3 separate regions of the Homo sapiens genome follow, and all the other regions are linked to region 2. The links come from fine-mapping of genetic effects on gene expression. A gene starts in region 2. Each other region holds a variant in brackets. All regions are shown on one strand. Distances are between the middles of the regions.

Region 1 (2,766 bases), 58 kb before region 2:
CCACAACCCTATGACTTACCAATAATTATCCCTGTTTTACAGATGAAGAAACTGAGACTCAGAGTGACTAAGTAGATGACCAGGGTTAGACAACTGGTAAGCAGCAGAGCTATTATTTGAACCTCATCAGTCTAGAGACTGAGTTCTTAACTAATACACTTTATACTACAGTTTGAATATGCCCTCAGAGTTTACATGTTGAAAACTTGATCTCCAATGTCATGATGTTGAGAGGTGGAGCCTAATGAGAAGTGATTAGGCTATGAGGCCTCTGCCTTCATGAATGGATTAATGCTGTTATCCTGGGAATGGGTTCCTTATAAAATGATGAGTTTGGCCCCGTCTTGCTCTCTCTCTCTCTTTCTCTCTCTCTCTCACCTTCTCTTTGTCCTTCTGCCATGGGATGATGTAGCAAGAAGGCCTTCACCAGATGCCAGCCCCTCAATCTTGGACTTCCCAGCCTCAAGAACCCATGAGCTAATACATTTCTGTTCATTATGTGAAAGTTGTCAAGATCAAAATGGAGTCACTTGTGTTAAAAAACAAAAATAAAAAATAGAGCCTCAAAGGGCCATGAAGGAAGGGTTCTCACAAATAAATGCCTGGTAACAAAAACTATCACAAAAGATGCTGCAAAAACCATAACATTGCACAAACACCACAGCAACCTTGCACGAAAAACAGTATTTCTGTGAGGATATCTGCCCAGCAACTGCCTATCTAATCTTGGACTGGTGTCACCTTTGTAATTGATCTTTGTAGCCATGGCTAACTTATCTCAAAACAATTATGTAATCCTTTTCATTTTTTCTTTAAAACCCTTTGTGTTCCTTCACCTCCCTAAATACCCATGTAGTTTACTAAGGGTGCACATACTCCTATTGCAATGCCCTATTCCTAAATAAAGATCATTTTCTTTTAGAGAGCCTCTCTCTGTTATCTTGGTTGACAATTATAAATTACCCAGTCTGTGCTATTCTCTTATAGCACAAAACAAAGACACTTTTCCATAATTTAGACGTGTATTCATCTTCAACAAATACAGGTATACCAGAACAAAAATAAAGGGAGGTACAGGGGATGACTACATAAAGAAGAGGATGTTTTTCACAATAAGGACTATTAATAACAAAGCAAAGTAATTATGATAATAATTTAATTAAAAATGAGAGGATTATCTCCAATAATTGTGTTTGAGAAGAAAAACTTGTACTACAAACTTGGAATAATGTGCTTATAGC[G/A]GTTTCATCATAGTAGTTCTGTTGAAGCTGTCTAGTTGGATAAAAAAGTTATTGCACTGTGAATCAGAAGAATCGGATTCCAGGTATTCTTGCCGCTATTTAACTAAGTGAGCTTGATAAAGCCACTAACCTTCTAGCTCCTAGTTTACCAGAAATAGTATTCATGCTGCTGGAGAAAGCACTGTAAGAAGAAAAAGGATAAATGCTTTCTTGTCACAGGAGATTGAACACTAGCATCAAGAATTTATTAACATTTTAAAATACTAAAAGAGTATAATTGGATTGTTTGTAACACAAAGGATAAATGCTTGAGATGATGGATACCCATTTACCCTGATGTGATTATTACTCATTGCATGCCTGTATCAAAATAGCTCATGTACCCCCATAAATATACACACCTACTATGTATCCACAAAAATGAAAAATAAAAAATTTTTTAAAAAGAATTTATTGAACTCATCCCATTTGAAAAGCACAAGGTAAGTTGAAAATTGGAAGGGACAACATTAATTTATTTCATCAAGTTTAAATTAGTGGGTAGTGAGGTCTGAAAAACAATACTCCTAAAATTATAAAGAAAAGTTTAAAAAATCATCAGCGAAAAAAGGCAAATCTGCTAGATAGCTCATGATCTTTTTGCATCCAGGTAAGCTGGGATATCTATGTATTTTAACAGCTTTTGTAAATTTATCTATTCCACTAGAGATATCCTTAAATGAAGTTAGCTTTTGGTTCAAGTCAATTTAATTCAACCTACATTTATAGAATGACCTCAAAAGCAATTTACTCTGAAACTAAGGAAGCCTAAGCTCCAGGCCTGTCACTTGCACAGCCCCCATGAGCACTGGGAGCTGCTGGGCATTTGGTGGAAGCAGAAACCAGGTCACAAACAGGAAGAGGTTCTATGTAGCACTTGTGGTAAATTGCCTAAAAGAGTTCACAGAAGGAAAGGACCTGAATTTCCACAGCTCTAGTAAGTTGTTGTGGCTCTTTTTGCATTCTAAATGTAGTACTCACTTTTCAACATAATTTTGTATCCGTAATGTTATATCAAAGCACATCCCCCAAATTCTATAAGAGATTTATACAAAGATGAAGGATCTCACTGTTTTGTAGGAAGAAGAGTGCAGAATTAGGTATAAAACAAAATTGCGGGGCACGGTGGCTCATGCCTATAATCCCAGCACTTTGGGAGGCTGAGGTGGGTGGATTAACTGAGGTCAGGAGTTTGTGACCAGCCTGACCAACATGGTGAAACCCCATCTCTACTAAAAATCCAAAAAAAAAAAAAAAAAAAAAAAATTATCTGGGCATGGTGGCAGGCACCTGTAATCCCAGCTACTTGGGAGGCTAAGGCAGGAGAATCGCCTGAAGCCATTGCACTCCAACCTGGGTGACAGAGCAAGACTCTGCCTCAAAAAAAAAAAAAAAAAAAAAAAGTGCTAGTCCAGTAATAGCAACAAAGTATAATAGGATCGCTTAGAATAAAACATTAGTAATACTAATTCGTTGCAGTATCCTT
Region 2 (2,766 bases):
CACATGACCTCTTCTTATTTGAGGAATATTTTCTTTTTCCCTAGGGAAAAAAATTATCCTAACCCCAAAATGATAGTGTACCTCTATACCTGTAACAGCAACTGGCATATCTGTGCTCAATTATGTTTGTTAAATGAATGGTCCTTGTTAAGTACGATATAAGCAAATATCAACCTTCTTTGCCAAGTTCTCCACATGTAAATACTGTTAGAAGAGTTTTTAAAGAAAAATTTAGTGTTTGCAATTTTAACTCTCGTATCTTCTGATTTCTACGCCAATGCTCTTATCCTTAAAGCCACATTTGTCCCTTGGCTGAAGAGTTGTGAAAGATCAGGAGACTTTTAGAACCTATCCATAACCAGTGTTGGCATTTGCAATATCCATGATTGAAACAAAATATTTTCAAACCAACTACTTTTACTAAACATGCAATGTGCTGGCCACTTCAACAGATAACCGGGCTTTGAGGAGGTATAGGTGTATTTCAAGAAATGTACTATCTAGCTAGGAAGAGAGAAGGATAGGTAAGACAACAGCAATGGGGGAAAAACCACAATAATATATGACGAATGTTAGATGTGACTTTAAGAGTTCAGGGGGCGGCGGGGGTGTGGGGGCGGAGCCGGGCGCGGTGGCTCAAGCCTGTGATCCCAGCACTTTGGGAGGCCGGGGCGGGCGGATCACAAGGTCAGGAGATCGAGACCATCCTGGCTAACACGGTGAAACCCCGTCTCTACTAAACAAAATACAAAAAATTAGCCGGGCGTGATGGCGGGCGCCTGTAGTCCCAGCTACTCGGGAGGCTAAGGCAGTAGAATGGCGTGAACCCGGTAGGCGGAGGTTGCAGTGAGCCGAGATCTTGCCATTGCACTGCAGCCTGGGCGACAGAGCGAGACTCCGTCTCAAAAAAAAAAAAAAAAAAAAAAGAGTTCAGAGGAGGGTAACGGAGGGAAATCGGAGGCTGTTTCAGAAGGTGCCCAGCAACAAGTGGGACTTAAGCCGGACTCCTGCAACATCCGAGGTGCGCACGCTGGCCCAGGATCCTAACAAATTGCTAGTCGGTGGCTATGAGTCTTAGATTATCAGGGACTCTCCGGGCTCTGCGGACACGCAGAACGCAGGCGCCACGCAAGCCGGCCCCGCCCTTTCACCCCTCCCCGCGCTCCCGGGCCCCGGGCGCGCCGCCTGGAACCCTCCCGGTCCTGGCTGGGGGCGGGCGAACGAGGCCCCACCTCTGCCGGGAGCGGGACGAGCGCGCAGGCGCAGTCTCCCCAGGTTGTAGACGCTGCGGCCCGGCCCGGCGGGGTGAGTTGAGAACGCGGCGCTTTGGTCGCAGCGGCGGTATGGTCGCCGCAGTTTCTCGGTCTTCGCTTCGGCGACCTTGACCCCCTTGTGGGTGGGCGAGGCTGGAAGAGAGGCTCCCCACCCCACTCGGCTTCCTGATCCCTGGGGGCGCCGGGCGGTCACCGAGGGCCGTGTGAGCGCCGCTCTGCCGGCTCCGGGTCCATGCGGCTGCGGGAGAAGCCCTGGGCGTCGGGGCTGGCCTGGGAGGGGCCCGAGTCCCCTGGTGACCTGGGCGCGCGGCGGCCCCACACCTTTCCGTCCGCCTCATCGCGGCGCATTTCTCTTCACATCCTCGGGGTGTGTGTGTGTTGGTGACCGGAGGAAGCCTGTCTAATGACTTTTCTGGAAGCGTCGTGTATTAGGAGCTCCGGGGCCGGACTGCTTGGGTCCGCATCTCCATCCACCGCTTACTGGCTTTGGGACCTCTGCAAGTCACTTCACTTCTCTTTCTCAGTTTCAAGTGTAAAATGCGGAAAATAATAGCAACTTATCTCCTAAGGTGGTTGTGAGGGTTGCGTGGGTTAATATTTGTGAAGTGCTTAGAACTGAGCGTGATACACAGCAAAACCATAAGTGCTGCTCATCTTTTTGAGCTTGGTATATAAAAGGAGATAGTGACCTTTTCTTCTCTTTCCAACCCCCATAAATAATTGCCCAAGAGTAGGAAAAAAGGATTTTTTTTTCTTAAGGATATGGGCTTTTTGCATAGCCTGTTTAAAAACAAAGCTTTCTAAACAACTTAGTTGCACATCCTACTTTAGAGAAAAGACAAGTGTTAAGTGATGGTGACTTGAAAACTGTAAAGTTTATTGTTTGGAAAACCGCATGAGAAAAATGGCCAGAACATATTTGTGCTAAAAAGAGTTAACATAGCAGGCCTTAAGACTGCTATCCTTAGAAAGGACTGCTTGCAATGTTGGTGCTTGTTTGGCATCTGGGAACTTAGATTTTTGGGTTTGTGCTGAACAGTATGTTTTATGCCGAAATTACCAGCTTCTGTAAAAATCCGGGACACCAAGTCTTTAATGGGCTTCCCTGCGCGGAAACTGCTGCATTTTCACTGATGGAGGAAGGATGTGTTTTGTTTGACCCCTCTTGGGAGGGAGACCGCATAAGGAGCCTACACGTGATTCCTCCAGACTCCGCTTGTGTCTTTTTCTATTATGATGAGCCTTTATATCCATACTGCATTGTGTAATAAATGTCAGCCATGAATTCAACTATATGTTGAGTCCCGTGCATCCTATCAAAGCTCTAAATGTGGGGGAGATCACGGAGATCCTCAGCCACAGTTTTGTAAATTTGTATAAAGGTAAGGGATATAAGTGCCGTTTTTTTACGAGGATATATTTCCTAGTGGTACTGGGCTTTTAGTGTAACCATCACCTGAATAATGTACATTGTGTCCATTAAGCAATTTCT
Region 3 (2,766 bases), 69 kb after region 2:
GTGTGCCCCTACTGGGGGGTGCCTCCCAGTTAGGCTACTCGGAGGTCAGGGACCCACTTGAGGAGGCAGTCTGTCCGTTCTCAGATCTCAAACTCTGTGCTGCGAGAACCACTACTCTCTTCAAAGCTGTCAGACAGGGACATTCAAGTCTGCAGGGGTTTCTGCTGCCTTTTGTTGGGCTGTGCCCTGACCCCAGAGGTGGAGTCTACAGAGGCAGGCAGGCCTCCTTGAGCTGTGGTGGGCTCCACCCAGTTCGAGCTTCCTGGCCGGCCGCTTTGTTTACCAACTGTTAGTATTATATGTATAATAGGAAAGTTTGTTTCCAAAAAAAAGTACTATATAAATTCAGCGGAGTGGAACTTGTTGGCTAATGTTATTTTTCCTGATTTTGCAGATAAAAAAAATTGAGGCAAGACACTTTTTATAACTTACTCTTCTTCCCCTGAATAACTAAAACTGAGTATCAATTACTCATGATAGTCTTTTCTTTATTTTTTGTCTTGACCCTTCAGCCAAGGTATAGGAAAAGAAAAATGTACTTCAAGCCATCAGCTGTGTGGAAACTTTAGTGAAACATTTCAGGTAGCTTAAAATTTTTAATTAGTTGATTCCCCCCTTCCCAAACTTAGGTTATTTTTTTCCCGTAATTTTCTTCCAGATCTATGGCAACCAAGCAACACTGTGTCATAATAGTTTATAGTTTACTTTTGTTACTTTTTAATTTGTTTAAAAAACAGATACATTTTCAGTGTTTAAAAATGAACAAGTATGGAAAGGCTTATACAGTAACTGAAAAGTCTCCTTTGGGAAGCCAAGGTGGGAGGATTGCTTGAGGTCAGGAGTTCAAGACCAGCCTAAGCAACATGGCGAGACTTTATCTCTACAAAAAATTAAAAAATTAGCCAGGTATGGTGGTACATACTTGTAGTAGTAACTACATGGGAGGCTGAGGTGGGAGGATCACTTGAGTCCGAGAGTTTGAGGCTGCGGTGAGCTGTGATTGTGCCACTGCACTCTAGCCTGGGCAACAGAGCAAGATGCTGTCTCTAAAAGAGATTTTTCTTTTAAAGAAAAAAGTCTCCCTCATAGCCCTGTTCTACAAAAGTCCTATTTCCTTCCCCACAAATAGCCTCTGTTACACTGTTGTTAGTTTCTTGTGTGAAGATTTACTTTTAAAATAGAACTATTTTTTAGTATATCTTCTAGTGATCTTAGTTTCAGTAGGCTTAGGAAATGGATCTGAGAGAAATGGTATTTAATAACTATGATATGTTTAAGAATTATTGGCATTTATTTTCAATGAGGTTACAAGACTCTTT[TCTTTG/G]AAAACACTGTCAACTTACAGAGTCAACTAATTCATGACCGAAAATGTATTAGAAAATTGTCATCTGGAGAAACTGTCACATACCAGAAAAATGAAAACCTTGAAATGAATGGGGATTCTTTAATGTTTGCCAGCCTCATGAATTCTGAGTCACGTCTGAATGAAAGCCCTACTGATGACAGTGAAAAAGAAGCCAGCCATTCTGAAAGCAATGTTGATGCTGACAGTGAGCCTTCAGAATCTGAAAGTGCTTCAAAGCAGACTGGGCTGTTCAGATCCAGTAGTGGATCCGGTGTGCAGCCAGATGGACCCCTTTACCCTCTGTCAGCAGGTAAACTGCTGTACACCAAGGAGACTGACAGTGGTGATAAGGAAATGGCAGAAGCTATTTCTGAACTTCGTTTGAGCAGCACTGTAACTGGAGATCAAGATTTTGACAGAGAAAATCAGCCACTAAATATTTCAAATAATTTATGTTTTTTAGAGGGGAAGCATTTGAGGTCTTATAGTCCCCAAAATGCTTTTCAGACCCTTTCTCAGAGCTATATAACTACTTCTAAAGAATGTTCAATTCAGTCCTGTCTCTACCAGTTTACATCTATGGAATTACTAATGGGGAATAATAAGCTTCTATGTGAGAATTGTACTAAAAACAAACAGAAGTACCAAGAAGAAACCAGTTTTGCAGGTAATTATTTTTTTAATTACATAATTATTGATCTCCTGATAGTGTCTAGTGAGTTACAAATTTCACTGAGAATTTTACTGAGAATCTTGTCCCTATACTTGTGTTACTTAGGCAGAGATTGTTTCATTCATATTTGTACCTGAGCGCTTACAATACTGGGCAGAACAGATTTTCAAGTTTTTTTATTTAAATAAAGAGCAGGAAGTATACAACTCTGCCTTGAAAATGCAAACCCATATAATCTTATTTGAGGGAACTACCTATCTGAAATCTATCCAGAAGAAATATCCCTACAACTTTTTTTTTTTTTTTTGGAGATGGAGTCTCACTCTGTTGCCCAGGCTGGAGTACAGTGGCGCGATCTCGGCTCACTGCAACCTCCACCTCCTGAGTTCAAGCGATTATTCTGCCTCAGCCTCCTGAGTAGCTGAGATTACAGGCGCCCACCACCATGCCCAGCTAATTTTTGTATTTTTAGTAGAGATGGGGTTTCACCATCTTGGCCAGGCTGGTCTTGAATGCCTGACCTCATGATCCACCCGCCTTGGCCTCCCAAAGTGCTGAGATTACAGGTGTGAGCCACCATGCCTGGCCTCCCTAAAACTTCTAATTGTATCACTGGTAAGATAAATGATAAAGCTAATGTGTTTCACAGATCCTATCAATCTGTTGTAAACTCAACGTAAGATAAATTTTGAAGATTTTAAATAGTAGCATGTCATAAAGCTAGCGCTATAATTACCATGATTAGTTG

Evidence for each region. PIP is the estimated chance that this variant, and not a neighbour inherited with it, causes the effect. A credible set is the group of variants that fine-mapping cannot tell apart.
Region 1: its variant is the best candidate, but not a certain one, in a credible set for the expression of USP45 in whole blood (TOPMed, PIP 0.76).
Region 3: its variant is the best candidate, but not a certain one, in a credible set for the expression of USP45 in blood mononuclear cells (TOPMed, PIP 0.63).

Annotation. Positions count from the first base shown.
Region 1 is chr6:99,572,156-99,574,921 of GRCh38, reverse strand. It overlaps the pseudogene TSTD3. Among named protein-coding and RNA genes, the nearest start is that of CCNC, 4.9 kb to the right of the region's middle. The variant G/A (reference allele first, on the strand shown) is at 1,242.
Region 2 is chr6:99,513,931-99,516,696 of GRCh38, reverse strand. It overlaps USP45 (ubiquitin specific peptidase 45), which reads left to right and starts at 1,274. Exons shown (of 18, transcript NM_001346022.3): 1 at 1,274-1,305. RefSeq lists silencers at 487-706, 1,017-1,386, 1,437-1,536 and enhancers at 453-1,358, 1,359-2,266.
Region 3 is chr6:99,445,043-99,447,808 of GRCh38, reverse strand. It overlaps USP45 (ubiquitin specific peptidase 45), which reads left to right. Exons shown (of 18, transcript NM_001346022.3): 14 at 1,346-2,012. Among named protein-coding and RNA genes, the nearest start is that of PNISR, 21 kb to the right of the region's middle. The variant TCTTTG/G (reference allele first, on the strand shown) is at 1,320.